Regions from separate parts of the Homo sapiens genome. Here region 1 is linked to region 2. The links come from fine-mapping of genetic effects on gene expression. A gene starts in region 2. The other region holds a variant in brackets. All regions are shown on one strand. Distances are between the middles of the regions. Region 1 overlaps UNKL (unk like zinc finger). Region 2 holds the start of CCDC154 (coiled-coil domain containing 154).

Evidence for each region. PIP is the estimated chance that this variant, and not a neighbour inherited with it, causes the effect. A credible set is the group of variants that fine-mapping cannot tell apart.
Region 1: its variant is the best candidate, but not a certain one, in a credible set for the expression of CCDC154 in macrophages (Alasoo 2018, PIP 0.70).

Annotation. Positions count from the first base shown.
Region 1 is chr16:1,391,017-1,399,328 of GRCh38, reverse strand. It overlaps UNKL (unk like zinc finger), which reads left to right. Exons shown (of 15, transcript NM_001372107.1): 6 at 2,034-2,151; 7 at 5,114-5,198; 8 at 6,353-6,438. Among named protein-coding and RNA genes, the nearest start is that of UNKL-AS1, 13 kb to the left of the region's middle. The variant AT/T (reference allele first, on the strand shown) is at 4,163.
Region 2 is chr16:1,441,088-1,449,399 of GRCh38, reverse strand. It overlaps CCDC154 (coiled-coil domain containing 154), which reads left to right and starts at 4,844. Exons shown (of 17, transcript NM_001143980.3): 1 at 4,844-5,084; 2 at 5,388-5,604; 3 at 5,705-5,894; 4 at 6,099-6,139; 5 at 6,425-6,520; 6 at 6,871-6,994. The coding sequence starts at 5,078. It overlaps CLCN7 (chloride voltage-gated channel 7), which reads left to right. Exons shown (of 25, transcript NM_001287.6): 18 at 73-124; 19 at 307-434; 20 at 634-719; 21 at 916-1,045; 22 at 1,686-1,745; 23 at 1,832-2,008; 24 at 2,314-2,394; 25 at 2,683-4,465. The coding sequence ends at 2,769.

The DNA of each region.
Region 1 (8,312 bases), 50 kb after region 2:
CCTTCCCGGCCCGTGGCTCGCGTTGCCCACCCCGGGGTTCTAATGGGAGGGCTGCCCTTGTGGCACCATCATCCCCGGGAGGGGAGGGCATCTCCAAGCACAGTGGCTGTGGGAGGTGCCATGGAGGCCCACGCGTCTGTCCTGGGGATGGGCCTCCCCACCTACGCTCAGTGTCTCCCATGCAGTCCCCTACCGGGGCCCCTCTGCCAGGCAAGGGGACGGAGCACTGCAGGAGGGACCCCAAGCCCAGCTGGGACCCCCGTGTGCCCCACCCGTGCCTCTGGTTGCAGCCACGCTCTCCAGCCTGTGGGCTGCATGCTGTCTCCTCACCCAAGCTGCCAGGGGCTCAGGCACTGTCGTCACCTGGGCTCAATCTTGTCTTCACAGCTGGCAGCTGGGACGCCGGGTCCTTAGGCTGAGTCCCAGGGCCAACAACCCAAGGGTCGCCCTGCCCAGGGTGCACACAGGACCTTCCTCCACCGCCTGAGCCCCAGCTGTCCCCTGGGTCTGGCTTGTGGGTTTGGCACCTCGCAGCCTGCTTGCCTCTGAAGCCCCTTTCTCCTCCTTGCTCCAGCCCGGCCTTCTGGTTGTGCCTGGCCTGGCTTGCCTCCTGTCTGCAGTTTGCACCTGAGAGGGGGGTGGGGGGGTGCAGACCCCACAGGGTGTCTGGATGCCTGGGCCATGGCCTTGGCCTCCCTGAGGCCCTGTCTGTGTCCAGCTCTTCCTTTGAGCAGAGAGCCACCCTCGCCTCTTTTGAATGACCTGGTGCTGCCTCGCATGCCCCGGAGAGCACCTGTGCTTCCTTTGGGAAGGACGCCCCACTCCTTGTTGTTATGCCACGTTCAGTCTCCCTCTGAGCAGCTTCCGAGTAAAGGACCTGAACGGCTGTAGAACAAACCACAAATTAGTGTCTGAGATTTTGTCATCGCCCGTCATGGAAAGAAAATAAAAATTATTTTTTCAACAGGCACTTAATGTGTCCCATAAATACAAATCAGTTACAATAAAGCAGCTAGAGATTCCACGAAGAGTAGAGGATTTTGTTTTTTTATGAGACAGAGTCTCACTCTGTGGCCCAGGCTGGAGTGCGGTGGTGCAGTCTCAGCTCACTGCAGTAGGAACATAGGTAATTTGAAATTGGTGCGGAGTTTTAAATTGTGGGATCAAAACTCTCGCTTCCATTTTATAGAAAGTTGGCGAGGAGACAGCCCCGTGCTGTCTGGGCGCCCGGCCTCACTGTCCCCAGGAGGTTCGGCTGCTTCTCCCCTGCGTTCTCCACGTCCGTGAGGGTGGCTCTGACTGAGACTCAAGTTAAATTCTGTGAAGAACAGCCCCGGGGCTCCTGACCCCATCCTGGCACTGGCCGGGCCTGCGTGTCCGTGAGCGCAGAGCTGCGTTGCCTGTCACTCCAGGGCCCCATGCCCGAGGCCCCTCCTGGTGGGAGGCAGACACCCCTGGGCACACGAGGAACCATGTTTTCCTGTGTCCCCCTGACACCTCCTCATCCCCAGGTCCACGCCCTGCCCCAGCGTGAAGCACGGGGGTCGGGGTGGGGGAGCCAAGTCCTCTGTGTCCCCCTGACACCTCCTCATCCCCAGGTCCATGCCCTGCCCCAGCGTGAAGCACGGGGGTCGGGGTGGGGGAGCCAAGTCCTCTGTGTCCCCCTGACACCTCCTCATCCCCAGGTCCACGCCCTGCCCCAGCGTGAAGCACGGGGGTCGGGGTGGGGGAGCCAAGTCCTCTGTGTCCCCCTGACACCTCCTCATCCCCAGGTCCATGCCCTGCCCCAGCGTGAAGCACGGGGGTCGGGGTGGGGGAGCCAAGTCCTCTGTGTCCTCCTGACACCTCCTCATCCCCAGGTCCACGCCCTGCCCCAGCGTGAAGCACGGGGGTGGGGGGCAGGGAGCCAAGTCCTCTGTGTCCTCCTGACACCTCCTCATCCCCAGGTCCACGCCCTGCCCCAGCGTGAAGCACGGGGGTGGGGGGCGGGGAGCCAAGTCCTCTGTGTCCCCCTGACACCTCCTCATCCCCAGGTCCACGCCCTGCCCCAGTGTGAAGCACGGGGATGAGTGGGGGGAACCCTCACGCTGCGATGGCGGCGACGGCTGCCAGTATTGCCACTCCCGCACGGAGCAGCAGTTCCATCCCGAGGTACGTCCCTCCAACCCCCCAGGCGTAGGGGTCGCTGGAAGGTCCCAGAGAAGCTGTGGGGTTCACAGCGTGGTTATCACACAGAAGGAACAGTGATTAACTTTGGCCGAGGGCTGGCACAGGTCGGGAAGCCTGGGGGTGGAGGCATGAGGGCTGTACCTGCTTGCTTGTCTTGCTTGCTGGCCTTCGGGCTGCCCTCAGCCAGCGAGTCTCTCCACTTGGCCTGTAACAGAAGAAAGAGTCATGTGGGAAAAAAGCAGAGAGAAAATGTCAATTAAAAACATACATATTCAGGTCTGGGTGCAGTAGCTCACGCCTGTAATCCCAGCACTTTGGGAGGCTGAGGCAGCTGGATAACGAGATCAAGAGATCAAGACCATCCTGGCAAAACCCCGTTTCTACTAAAAATGCAAAAAATCAGCCAGGCGTGGTGGCGGGCGTCTGTAGTCCCAGCTACTCAGGAGGCTGAGGCAGGAGAATGGCGTGAACCCAGGAGGCGGAGCTTGCAGTGAGCTGAGATCGTGCCACTGCACTCTGGCCTGGGCAACAGAGCAAGACTCTGCCTCAGGAAAAAAAAGAAAAAGAAAAAAATATATATATTCAGGCCAGGCACGGTGGCTCACACTGTAATCTCAGCACTTTGGGAGGCAGAGGCGGGCAAATCACTTGAGGTCAGGGGTTCGAAACCAGCCTGGTCAACATGTCTGTACTAAAAATACCAAAATTAGCTGGGTGTGGTGGTGCGCGCCTGTAGTCCTAGCTACTCGGGAGGCTGAGACGCGAGGAGCACTTGAACTTGGGAGGCTGAGACGTGAGGATCGCTTGAACCCGGGAGGCAGAGCTTAGAGTGAGCCGAGATCACGCCACTGCACTCCAGCTTGGAGGACAGAGCGAGACTCCATCTCAAGGAAAAAAAACAAAACAAAACACATGTTCAGGCCAGGCACGGTGGCTCACACTGTAATCCCAGCACTTTGGAAGGCTGAGGTGGGCACATCACTTGAGGTCAGGGGTTCGAAACCAGCCTGGTCAACATGGTGAAACCCTGTCTCTACTAAAAATACAAAAATTAGCCAGGTGTAGTGGTGCGCGCCTATAGTCTCAGCTACTTGGAGGCTGAGGCGCGAGGATCACTTGAACCTGGGAGGCTGAGGTTGCAGTGAGCCAAGAGTGCGCCACTGCACTCCAGCCTGGGGGATAGAGCAAGACTCTATCTAAAAAAAGTAAAATCCTCAGCCAAGGGGGAGGCGTGCAGGGGCTGGGAAGGACCAGGCGCTGCTTCCCGTCGTTTCTTGACTCATGTTGTCACAGACGCGCATCATGCTTTCTGGGTGTCGGTGACCACACACTCAATGGTGTCACCAGGGGCCTGTCGGGAGTCCGGTGTCCGGGGCGTTTTCTGTGTTCAGTCACGCAGGCCTGGTTGCAGACCCCAGTCTCTGGTACCCAGCTGAGTGGAGCTGGCACCACGTGGGCCACAGCCGCACCATAAATCCTGAGGGAGATAAACCCTCCCGCCTGGGCCCCGCCCCAGGTAAACAAGGACTCTTCCGAGGCAGGAGGTTCCTGGGGCGGAAGGGGCAGCCTGAGATGGAGCCAGGCCTGTGCCTCCACTAGAAGGTGCAGGGTATGGACGGTACAGGGAGGCTGTGTTCACACCCAGCCGTGTAGTTGCCAAGGGACCATACTCAGATTTGTATTAAAAACAAACAGGCCAGGCACAGTGGCTCACGCCTGTAATCCCAGCACTTTGGGAGGCCGAGGCAGGCAGATCACCTGAGGTCAGGAGTTCGAGACCAGCCTGGCCAACATGGTGAACCCGTCTCTACTAAAAATACAAAAATTAGCCAGGTTTGGTGGCTCATGGCTGTAGTCACAGCTACTCAGGAGGCTGAGGCAGGAGAATTGCTTGAATCCAGGAGGCAGAGGTTGCAGTGGGCCAAGATGGCACCATTGTACTCCAGCCTGGGCGACAGAGCCAGACTCTGGCTCAAAAAAAAAAAAAAAAAAA[AT/T]GAACAGACCGGGCACGGTGGTTCACGCCTGTAATCCCGGCACTTTGTGGGGCCGAGGTCAGGAGTTTGAGACCAGCCTGGCCAACATGGCGAAACCCCATCTCTACTAAAACTACAAAAATTAGCCAGGTGTGGTGGCACATGCTTGTAATCCCAGCTACTTGGGAGGCTGAGGCAAGAGAATCACTTGAACTCGGGAGGTGGACGTTGCAGTGAGCCGAGATCTTGCGACTGCACTCCAGCCTGGGTGACAGAGCGAGACTCTCTCTCAAAAAACAAACAAAATGAACAAGCAAACGGGACCCCACCGGGTGCCCGACGTGGTGGAAGGGCCATGGGGGGGTGGGGCCAGGCCGGAGGTCAGGAGAGAGGCTTCCTGCTGGGACCCAGGCAGGTGTGGGCACTGGAGGCCTGGCGTGCCAGGTGCCGTGTCCTTTACGGAGAGCTACGGAGCAGGAGGGGCTGGGCCAGGCCTCCCAAGGCCGACTGGGGGCTTCCAGGCTGGTCTGTCCCTTGCCGGGTCTTAAGTGTTGTTGACCTCATGAGAGGGGCTGTCACCCTAGGTGAAGGGTCAGTGGGTCTGATCAGGGAACAGACACACGTGTTCCTTTTAATAGGCACTTATTAGGCACCTGCTGCATACCAGACTCTGAATTTGGTGCATCTTTCAGAAAATATCAAGCGGGGAAATGACTTTGCCTGTGATGGGAGGGCAGATGCTGCGGGAATGGCCCCACATGTGTGCGTGTTCCCTGTGGGTCGGCTCTGCAGAGAGGAGGGATGTGGGGACCAAGGGCACACGTGGAGGAGGGCAGGGCCCACGCCCCCCTTTTCAGGGGTGTCTTGTTACGATTTGGAGCTTAATCCTCTCCCTTGGGATGATGCCAGCTGTGGTCTTTCCACAGAATCCCATTTCCAATCCAACCTCTTTATTTCACTTTTTTCCCCAGATCTACAAATCTACAAAATGCAACGACATGCGCCAAACCGGGTACTGCCCGCGCGGCCCCTTCTGTGCCTTTGCACACGTTGAGAGTGAGTAACCGTCCCTGTGGCAGGTTCACCTTAGCAGGTTCCGCGGCTCTGCAGGCCCTCACTGGAGTTACCGATGACCCGGAGCTGCCCACGAGGACCTGGAAGGCGGGCAGGAGCTCAGCACCGTGGTTGGGGGCTGGGGGTCCCTGACATGCCCGTGGAGGCTCCCTGGGGTGTTTGTGCCATGTGAGGCTGGGCTCCCTCCACGCCGGCGTGGGCCAGGCCTGGTGGAATCTGCAGGGACCCTGTCTTCAGGCACGCTGGGGCCCTGAGCCTGGAGGCTGAGTCCTGGTGTGGGCTGGCTGGCACCTCCACCTGCCTCCTGGGCATCCAAGCTGGGTCCTTCTGCCACCCACTGCCTGGGCCTTGCTCCGAGACTGCCATCTTGCCAGGCACCCACCCAGGAGCACCACCTCCCTTGTGGAGAGAGGGGGTCTGTCCGCCCCAGCTCGGGGAGACAGCAGAGACCCTCAAGCAGGGTTGCTCAGGGTGACCCTGTGCTTTCCAGAGCCCGTTTGCTGTCCAGGGGATGAGGGCTTAGCTTTGGCGATTATGTGGTCCCTAATAAGTTCCCAGCAGCAGAAACAAGCCCCAGTGGGAACCCACGCGGCCTCCTCCACGCTGCAGTGGGTTTCCTTCTGGCAGCCCTGGGGTTTGGGTTCAGTGGGAACCCACGCGGCCTCCTCCACGCTGCAGTGGGTTTCCTGGCAGCCCTGGGGTTTGGACTCAGTGGGAACCCATGCGGCCTCCTCCACGCTGCAGTGGGTTTCCTCCTCGCAGCCCTGGGGTTTGGGTTCAGTGGGAACCCACACGGCCTCCTCCTCCCAGCCCTAGGATTTGGGTTCCAGGTTTTGTGTGTGTGGTCACAAGCTCAAATTTTCCTTTGTTTTTTATTTTAGTGGGGAGGGCAGCTATTCTTGTTCACGTTTTAAACATTGCTTTTAGTGTTAAAAACATGAAAAACTGGTCTAAGACCAGAGGGTCCTGTTGCCCTGAGTGTCCCCACCACTGCCCAGCCGTCCTCTGCCGCACCCCTGAGGGATGATTGTGACGAGGCTGCGCACACTCGGCCCTGACGTGTGGTGCGGAGACTTCTGCGTGTCACTGTCGCCCACCAGCGGCCCTCAGAGTCTGCTGCTCCCCTGTCCTTGCAGAGAGCCTGGGGATGGTGAATGAATGGGGCTGTCACGACCTCCACCTCACGAGTCCTTCCTCCACGGGCAGCGGCCAGCCGGGAAATGTAAGTGAACGGCCTTCCCAGGACAATGCCCAGTGTCCTTTGGTTTAATTGAACTCTTAGGGATGTGGATGGATATGAGTTTTCAGCAATGTGGTCGTGGGCAGTCTGTGGAGTTCGTGGCTCTTCTAGAAGAGTCTAGAAAAATCCTTGCCACTAGGCTGGGGGCAGTGGCTCACGCCTGTCATCCCAGCACTTTGGGAGGCTGAGGCGGGTGGATCACCTGAGGTCAGGAGTTCAAGACCAGCCTGGCCAACATGGTGAAACTCCATCTCTACTAAAAATACAAAAATTAACCAGGTGTGGTGGTGGGTGCCTGTAATCCCAGCTACTCAGGAGGCTGAGGCGGGAGAATCACTTGAACCCAGGAGACGGAGGTTGTGGTGAGGTGAGGTCCCGTCATTTCACTTCAGTCTGGGTGACAGAATAAGACCCCATCTCAAACAAAAAAAGAGGGGGGAAGAGGGGGTTGGGCTTCTAGGAAGGTAAGGCTATGGGGGAGACTGGCGGAAGGTAAGAGCAACTTCAGTGAGGTTGGTTATGCAGCCTCAATCTGCAGTCTCTCCTCCTGGTGTGGAGAGGGGAGAGGACACCTTCACAGAGGGAATTCACGCCCGGCTTCGAGGCAGGAAGGAAGCAGAGAGCTGCTCCTGCATCTACTGTTTCTCAGCTGCCTTCAACTCAAAATAATCTTTTTGTCAAAGAGTGGCATGTTTTGGGGTGGCACACTCTGACTCCCTTCATATATTTCTTAACAGTTTCACCTGAGCCTCTGCCTTAGGTGAATGGCTCGGTTTGGGGTTTGATGCCATGGTTGGTTCAGGGAGTGCAGAGCTGGCACCCTGCCTTCACACGGACCAACCCAAGGTCAGAGAGCCACGTTCAAATGTAAGAAATGGAACTCAGGGCCGGGCGCGGTGGCTCACGCCTGTAATCCCAGCACTTTGGGAGGCCAAGGCGGGTGGATCACCTGAGGTCAGGAGTTCGAGACCGGCCTGATGAACATGGTGAAACCCCATCTCTACTAAAAATACACAAATTAGCCGGGCGTGGTGGCGTGCGCCTGTAATCCCAGCTACTCCAGAGGCTGAGGCAGGAGAATTGCTTGAACCCGGGAGGTGGAGCTTGCAGTGAGCTGAGATCGCGCCACTGCACTCCAGCCTGGATGACAGAGTGAGACTTTGTCTCAGAAAAAAAATGAAAAGAAAAGAAATGGAACTCAGGAGAACCGACAGGGAGCCAGCAGGTTCAGGCATCTCTTCTGTTTCATGAGACCTTCGAGATTTGGCATCTTTGGCCAGTTGCAGTGGCTCACGCCTGTAAACCAGGCACTTTGGGAGGCTGAGGTGGGACAATCGCTCGAGGTCAGGAGTTCGAGACCCGCCTAGGCAACATAACAAGACCCTGTCTCTACAGAAAGCTTTGAAAAATTAACTGGGTCCACTGGCAAATGCCTGTGCTCACAGCTTCTTGGGAGGCTGAGACAGGAGGATTGCTTTAGCCAGGGAGGTCATGCCACTGCACTCCAGCCTGGGAGACAGAGCGAGATCCTGTCTCAAAACAAAACAAAACCAAAAATAGCATTCGTCTAAATTCTGAGCAGAGCTTATGTGTGTGTGTGTGTGTGTGTGTGTGTGTGTGTGTGTGTGTGTGTATCTTTAAGGGACCAAGAGTACTGCTGAATAGGTACATATATATTGTGTGTGTGTGTGTGTGTGTGTGTGTGTGTGTGTATTTTTTTTTGGAGACAGAGTCTCACTCTATCACCCAGCCTGCAGTGCGGTGGTATGACCTTGGCTCACTGCAGCCTCCACCTCCTGGGTTCAAGCGATATCCTTTTTTAAATTTTTTATTCTATTTTTTGAGACGGAGTTTCA
Region 2 (8,312 bases):
CCTCCGTCTGTGTATCTTGGTGGGTTTGGGCCTGCCACCACACTGACACCTCCTCCGTGTCACCTCCCACAGATCTGGGCGGACCCCGGCAAATACGCCCTGATGGGAGCTGCTGCCCAGCTGGGTATGTCCCAGCTCTTGCCCGATGGGTGGGGAGCTCCACGGGGTCTGGAGGGGGCCATGGCTGTCCTTGCGGGGCTAGGGTCTGGGAGCAGGTGGATGGGATGGGTGCTGCAGAGAAGGCAGTGGCCACGTGACCCTGAGCCAGGAGGGTGGACGTGCTGGGGTTCATGATGGCTCCCGCAGGCGGGATTGTGCGGATGACACTGAGCCTGACCGTCATCATGATGGAGGCCACCAGCAACGTGACCTACGGCTTCCCCATCATGCTGGTGCTCATGACCGCCAAGATCGTGGGCGACGTCTTCATTGAGGTGCGCCAGGGCCTCGAAGCCTCACCCTGAGAGCGTGGGTGCTGCCATAGGGGAGGGGCCCCTGTGAGCCTCCAAACAGCCGGTCCCGGGGGGTAGGCTCAGGGTTTCTGGGGGCGGCCTCTGGGCTCCCAGGGGTAGGCTCGGGGCTCCAGGGGTGGGTGTGGACTCCTCAAGCCCTGTGTTCCCGCCCCGCCCGCAGGGCCTGTACGACATGCACATTCAGCTGCAGAGTGTGCCCTTCCTGCACTGGGAGGCCCCGGTCACCTCACACTCACTCACTGCCAGGTACAGCGCCCAGGACACCTGTGGGTGGGGAGGGTGTCCAGCGGCCTCTTGTTGCACAGGGGCAGGGTGCACGGCTTGCGGGCTCCAGGCAGCCCCGCGTTTCCTGTCCAGCGGCTTCACACCTCACCAGCCCGCAGAGGTAACTGTGGGAGTTGGTGGCGTGTGACGGGCATGTGTGGCCGGGCTCCTCCGGCAGGGAGGTGATGAGCACACCAGTGACCTGCCTGAGGCGGCGTGAGAAGGTCGGCGTCATTGTGGACGTGCTGAGCGACACGGCGTCCAATCACAACGGCTTCCCCGTGGTGGAGCATGCCGATGACACCCAGGTACCGGGCACCCCATAGACAGGGTCCTGCCTATGTGACCTCTGTCGAGTCCATTGGTGGGAAGCACACGGCAAGGTTTGCAGGATGGGGAAGCTGCACGTTTGGGTGCACTGGCAGTTCCAGGAGTGCCGGAAGCTGAGTGTGCAGCCATGGAGGGCTGTGTGGACGCTGAGGCTGGTGGGGGGGGCTGCGGCCTGGCAGGGTCTTGGGGTTGGCACCCAGGCTGGGCTGAGAGCCGTGGCACTGGGGGCCGTGACTTTGTCAGGAGGCCCTGACAGGACACACAGCTCGGCCACTGCTGTGTGTCTTTTAGACGTGGACACTGGGTGTTTGGAGGTTGGTTTTTATTGGGACCCAGTGGGGCTGCATCTGCCCTGCAGCAAAGCCACCATCCCTGGGCCCTTGGCTCTCTGCTGTGCGCGGTCAGGCCCCGCTACCCTGTCGCCGATCCTTGGGTCCCGTGGCATTGTGCGTGTGGGATGCCATGGCGAGGCTGGTGTGAGCAGGTAGCCACCGACACGGGGCCCATGCCCAGATGGGAAATCTGGCCGGAACAGGGTCAGAGCGGGGCCCGACACAGCATTCCAGCGCAGCCTCCCACCCTCGGGCCCGTGGCCCTGACCGCGGGCCTGTCTTGCAGCCTGCCCGGCTCCAGGGCCTGATCCTGCGCTCCCAGCTCATCGTTCTCCTAAAGCACAAGGTGCGTGCCAGGCTCCGGGCCATTGGGCGGGTGGGGGCCCCGGGGGTGCTGCCTGGGTGCCTGACACAGGGCTCTGCCGCCCGCAGGTGTTTGTGGAGCGGTCCAACCTGGGCCTGGTACAGCGGCGCCTGAGGCTGAAGGACTTCCGAGACGCCTACCCGCGCTTCCCACCCATCCAGTCCATCCACGTGTCCCAGGACGAGCGGGAGTGCACCATGGACCTCTCCGAGTTCATGAACCCCTCCCCCTACACGGTGCCCCAGGCATGTGCAGGGCATGGGCATGGGCGTGGGGCCTGGGACTGAACAGCAGGGGGTGGGGTCCAGAGCCTCGGGGAGGGGCAGCCGGGGGGGGCCACAGCGGAGAGGACTCGGTGACTCTGTCTCCTGTGAAGGGCCTGGCAGGCTTTAGAGCTGAAGTCAAGGGGCTGAGGGGGCTGGCCAGACGGGCGTGGGGGCTCAGGACGTGCCTGGACGCCGTGGTGGGGGGTGCAGGGAGCCAGCTTGGGTGAGGGTCCCGCCTGCCTCTGCTGTGTGGGCGGGCACTGACAGCTGTGCCCCTGCTGCAGGAGGCGTCGCTCCCACGGGTGTTCAAGCTGTTCCGGGCCCTGGGCCTGCGGCACCTGGTGGTGGTGGACAACCGCAATCAGGTGAGCGGGGGCGGTGGGGGTGCAGGCATGCCGTGCAGGGCTCCCCTCTGCCTCCTGCCCGTGCTTACTCTCAGCTCCCGGCAGGGGACACGGAAGCACAGGACCCAGCACCGAGTCGGCCCATGCCCCATGGCTGCACCCCTCCCCAGCCCCGTGCTCAGCTCGGGGGCTGTGCTGAAGCCCCCAGGGCCCCCTGCCTGTGCTGCCCCAGCCACACACAAGGCAGGGAGCTCCACAGGCAGGCGGGAGCCGACCCGTGTGTCACTGTGGCCTGGACTTGTCCTGCAGGTTGTCGGGTTGGTGACCAGGAAGGACCTCGCCAGGTACCGCCTGGGAAAGAGAGGCTTGGAGGAGCTCTCGCTGGCCCAGACGTGAGGCCCAGCCCTGCCCATAATGGGCACTGGCGCTGGCACCCCGGCCCTTCTGCATTTCCTCCCGGAGTCACTGGTTTCTCGGCCCAAACCATGCTCCCCAGCAGTGGCAATGGCGAGCACCCTGCAGCTGGGCGGGCAGGCGGCAGGCGCGGAACTGACCCTCTCGCGGGACTGACCCTGTTGTGGGCAGTGGTCTCCCCCCTTGGCGCCTCCTTGCGCAGGCCCAGCCTCCACTCTCCTCGTCTAGGTTTCTTTACCTCCAGGGATCAGCTGTGTGTGTGTGACCTCCCTACCGGGCTATCGGCCTCTTGGGAGCCAGCGGCAGGGCCGGCACCTGCGTGCCTGTGCCCGTGTGCGTGAGACAGAGCCCTTGCCCCTGCTGCTGCCCCGAGGGCTGCCCTGCCCTGGAAGGGCCCCTCTGCCTCCACACCAGTGGAGTCTTCGAGACTTGGGAGCTGCTTGGCCTCATTTTCAGCCATGAGCAGACGGCCTGTGGTCCCTGGGCCTGAGGCACGGACTCGTAGCACCAGGGTTTGGAGGCTGCGACCGCCCCGGAGAGCAGCTTCACACTGGCGCCACAGAGGAGCCCCACGTGCACTCCCCGGCCTGCATCCGGCTTGGGTACACAGGCCCAGAGGACTGGGGTGACTCACGGGCCCTGTGCTGTGATGTTGAGAGCTGAGAAAAACCTCCAAGGCCCTGAGCCCCATGCCCAGCCCTGCCTTGGTCCCCCAACCCCCAGAGCTTGGAGTCTGGGCCCCACACCCAGCCCTGCCTTGGTCCCTGAGCCTCAGAGCGTGGAATTGCTGCCCTGTGGACACTGGCTGGGAAGGCAGGTCTTCCCCTAGCACATGGGGACCCCGGCCTCGAGGGTGACCTCCCTACCCCGCCCCTGCCAGCCACCAAGCGCAGGTGCAGCGGGGGCCAGACTCCTGCCGGCCTCAGAGGACACCTGGCCCAGCACAGGCAGCTAGAAGGGCCGGTGGGCACCGGGGCCGGGAAGCCCCCACCTCACCACCTGAGGGCCCCTGGGAGGCTCCTCTGGCCTGGCTGGGCTGGGTCTGGGGCCGCCACAGGCCCCTCACGGGGCGGCAGAGGCAACTTCAGTGTCCCTGTTAGAGCAACACGGGTCCCTCCGTGGGGGGCTGGGTGCGGCCCCCTGCCGTGTATTTCCTCCCCAGGGAGTGGGGCCTCCCCGGGAGCTGACGCCACCACCCTGCTTAGCCCTCACAGGGCCCCAAGGTGTCCGAGTGTGTTGGGTCTGAACGCGAAATAAAGAAATCCTCTCAGCCCGCCTTTGCCAGCGTCGTCCCTCCCACCCCACCCAGACCACGTCCAACAGCCTGGGACTTTCGGGACCCTGGGGTCGGGGCACCGTGTGGAGTGAGAAAGGCGTGAAAGACAGCGGCTGCGGCCACCCAGGGCACCAGCCACATCCTCTTCCTCGTCCCCGCCCCTCAGCCTCCCTCCTCTGGCTCCTGGCTGGTGGGTCTGGGGGCAAGGCAGAGGCGCTCCAGGTGGAGGGGGGCGGGCCGGGGTGCCCACGCTGGGGTGACGCAAGAAGAAAACTCCCGGGCCTCAGAGTCGGCGCCGGAAACCTAGGTCTGGGTTTCCCTCGTGGTGGTTGTGTACTGAGGACCTGGAAGTGATCATATTTTGGATATATTCGGTTAAATAAAATCAGCGGTTAGGATTCACATCGCTGCTTCTTGCCTTTTAATGGGGCTGCTGAGCAAGATGGGTTCCCGTGGAGCCCGGCTGTGCCCCTCACCCCGATGGCGCTGCCCAGGCCTCGGGCTCCGCTCGGACGTGGGCCTGGCTGTGTCCGGGGTGTCCTGGGGCTCTCGGCCTCCCTGCTCCCAGCGTCCCTCCCGGCGTGCCCAGGCCTCGTCAGGGCCTCCTTCCCCTCCCTCGGCAGCTGAAGAAGTCCCCTTTGCCAGAGGACACGTGTCTGCGCCCTCTCGGGAGTGGGGCCCCTCAGATCCATCCAGAAGCAGGCAGTTGGGGGGCCCTGCGGGAGTGGGAGAGCTGAGGGCTAGAGTTCCATTGGCAGTTGGGCTGTGAAGCCGTGAGGTTCTGGGGAGAGAAGGAAGGTTCTGGAACGGCCCCGCTGCCCCACACCTGCCTCCCTGGGGACCCTGAGAAGGCAGCCAGACGAGGGCAGCAGCTCGTCCCTCAAGGCCCAGAGCTCTCACGGGACTTCCTCTGGCTCCTGACCCCCCTGGCCTGTGCCCAGCTCTGGGCAACCTCAGAGGCCCCAAGGCCCAAGCTACAGCCGAGGGCAGGGTGGCCGGTGCAGCCCAGCAGCCATGTCAGGTGACCAGAGCGGAGGAGCGGGGCCCAGGGAGGGGCTTGCCACAGGTGTGAGGGTGGGGACCGCTCTGCTTCTGACCCCGGGCTCCCTCCAGCTCGCTTGTTCCTGCCGCCCAGTGCTGTGTGTCTTCAGGCAGGGCCCTGGACTTGTCTGAGCCAAGCCCGTCTGGATCCTGTGTGACCCAAGGAGACGCGTTGAGCTCTGGGTGGTGGGCGAGGGTCCTGCGGGGGTTTGGGGCCTTGTTCCCGTAAGCTCCAGTGGGGGCCGGGCCCCAAGGGGCAAGCTCCCAAGATGCCTCCTTGTAGAGTTGGCTGACAGTGGACCCTCAGGGGCATCGGCCCCTTCCCAGCTGAGAGCCGTCACCCTGGAAGACCTGGGGCTCCTCCTGGCAGGAGGCCTGGCCAGCCCCGAGCCCTTGAGCCTGGAGGAGCTCTCGGAGAGGTATGAGTCCAGCCATCCGACATCCACGGCCTCTGTCCCCGAGCAGGACACCGCCAAGCACTGGAACCAGCTGGAGCAGTGGTGAGCCCTGCAGGGGGTGCTGGCGGGGGAGGACCACGTCGCCGCCGCCTCCGCCTCCACGGCGGGCACCGCCAGACTCGCCCACTCTCGCCCCGGCCAGGGTGGTGGAGCTGCAGGCCGAGGTGGCCTGCCTGCGGGAGCACAAGCAGCGCTGTGAGCGCGCCACGCGGAGCCTGCTGCGGGAGCTGCTCCAGGTGCGGGCCCGCGTGCAGCTGCAGGGCTCAGAGCTGAGGCAGTTGCAGCAGGAGGCGCGGCCGGCAGCCCAGGCCCCCGAAAAGGAGGCGCCGGAGGTGAGCGGCTCCCCCACCCACAGGTCGAGCTGCCCCTTTCCTGGGTGTTGGGGGCAGCTGCTTCTGGGCCTGGAGCCCAGCTCACCCCTGCTGCCCAGGCCCAGAGCTCCCAGGGGCCAGTGGTGCCGGAGCTGGGTGGACTCCAGGGGCAGGTGCCAGACCCGGGCCTAGGTCCAGCCCACAGCCTCCTCTTCCTCCTCGCAGTTCTCTGGTCTCCAGAACCAGATGCAGGCCCTGGACAAAAGGTACCCCCCACACACCTAGGGGCACAGGCCCAGGGCGGGGAGGTGGTGGCGAGAAAGCAGCGGCAGGTGTGGTGGGGGGTCCACATCTCCCGCTGGGTGTCGCTGGAGTGGGGGATACACATCCAGGTCCAGCTAGAAAAGGCCGGGTTTGTACGTGCCTGGGCGGCCTTCAGAGGCCCAGGAAAGCCATGGGAGGTGGCCACAGGGGCCCCTTGGCCAGACCCCCAGCCCGCCGAGGCTGCTCAGCCCGCCTGGGCCTCTCGGGAATGGCTTGTTGTGTCCCAGGCTGGTGGAGGTCCGGGAAGCCTTGACCCGGCTCAGGAGGAGGCAGGTGCAACAGGAGGCGGAGAGAAGGGGCGCCGAGCAAGAGGCCGGCCTCAGGTGGGCGCCCACCGCCCGTGGCTGGCTCCGGAGCTTGCGTGGGGTCATTTGAGAGTCCCTGGCTGAGCCAAGACACGGGTCCCCCTGCCGTGTGTCCCCAGTAACCCGGCGGGGCACCGCCCTCGGTGCCAAGCGTGCTGGGAAGCCTGGGCCCGCTGCGGACCCTCTGTGGGGAAGAGACTCGCAGCAGCCCTTCCCTGCCACCGGTGCTGTGTTTCCCATTCCTCTGTTTTCTGGTGGGGCAGGGGGCGGGGGTCGTACACCTCCTGCCTGGCCAGCCTGTGGGTCAGCCTCACCCTGCTGGGCCCTCCGGCCAGCTGGGCTGGTGTGACCACAGCCGACTTCTCTAGACTGGCCAAGCTGACCGACTTGCTGCAGCAGGAGGAGCAGGGCCGGGAGGTGGCCTGCGGCGCCCTGCAGAAGAACCAAGAGGACAGCAGCCGGAGGGTGGACCTGGAGGTGGCCAGAATGCAGGTACCACCAGGCCCAGGCTTCAGGGGGGCCGCCCAGAGGGCCGAGGAGGAGACCCTAACCCTCTCGGCCTGTGCCATCCGATACAGCGGCCGTTCACCATGTATCTGTGTCCACTGAAATCAGCTATAGTTGTAGACAATGTAAAACTCAATTCCTCAGCCGCACATGCCCCATTTCAAAAGTTCAGGTTGTTTGGGCACGGTGGCTCACGCCTGTAATCCCAGCACTTTGGGAGGCTGAGGCGGGCAGATCACAAGGTCAGGAGTTCAAGACCAGCCTGGCCAACATGGTGAAACCCCATCTCTACTAAAAATACAAAAAACTAGCCAGGTGTGGTGGCGGGCACCTGTAGCCTCAGCTACTGAGGAGGCTGAGGCAGGAGGATTGCTTGAATCCAGCAGGAGGAGGTCACAGTGAGCTGAGATCGCGCCACTCCAGCCTGGTGACAGAGTGAGACTCCATTTCAAAAAACAAAACAAAACAAAAAAACAAAAGCTCAGGCCACGTGCAGTGGCACACGCCTGTAAATCCCAGCACTTTTGGGAGGCCGAGGCGGGAGGATCGCTTGAGCCTGGGAAGTCAAGACCAGCCTGGGCAACACAGCGAGACCTCATCTCAAAAAAAAGCTCAGTTGCCACGTGGGGCCGGCAGCTGCAGATCTGGGCGCTCTTCGTCCCAGGAAGCTGCCTGTGTCCTGCCGCCTCCACCCCTCCCCACACAGCCAGCGCCTGCCCGGGTCCACAGATCGCAGCCCCGAAGCCCCTTCCACGGCCACTCTCGGGCTCCACCTTTCCCTGCACACAAAGCGGAGTTCACCTTCCTCGAGGACACGAGTTCCTAGAAGCCAGGGTCCCACCCACGGGGCTGGAGTGGCTCCCCCTCCTGCTGTGGCCTCAGCAGGGGCCTCCGCTGTGGGTGGGGAGGGAACGGGCAGCTGCACATTTCAGCAGCCCGGGTCTGAGCTCCACAAATAGAGACCGGGGACTGCAGCCAGCTCCCGTGCGCATCAGGCAGTACGCTGGGTGAGGGGCCAGGACTGCCGGGGCACCCAGCTGCCACCCACATAGCTCCACTGCCCGGAGCCGGCAGCCTCCCTCTCACTGCCCTTCAGGAAGTTACTGAGTGGCCGTGTGGAGCAGGCAGGGGTGCTGGGCTGAGGATTCCCAAGGTGCCAGGTGTGGGGGAGCTGCCGCTCATGAGGGCGTCTGCCTTTCCCTGAGTCCGGGTGTCTGAGTGCTCTCTAGGGCCAGAGGCAGCAAAGCCAGGCCGACACTCGTTTTTTGTTTTGAGACAGGGTATTGCCTGGTTGTTCAGGCTG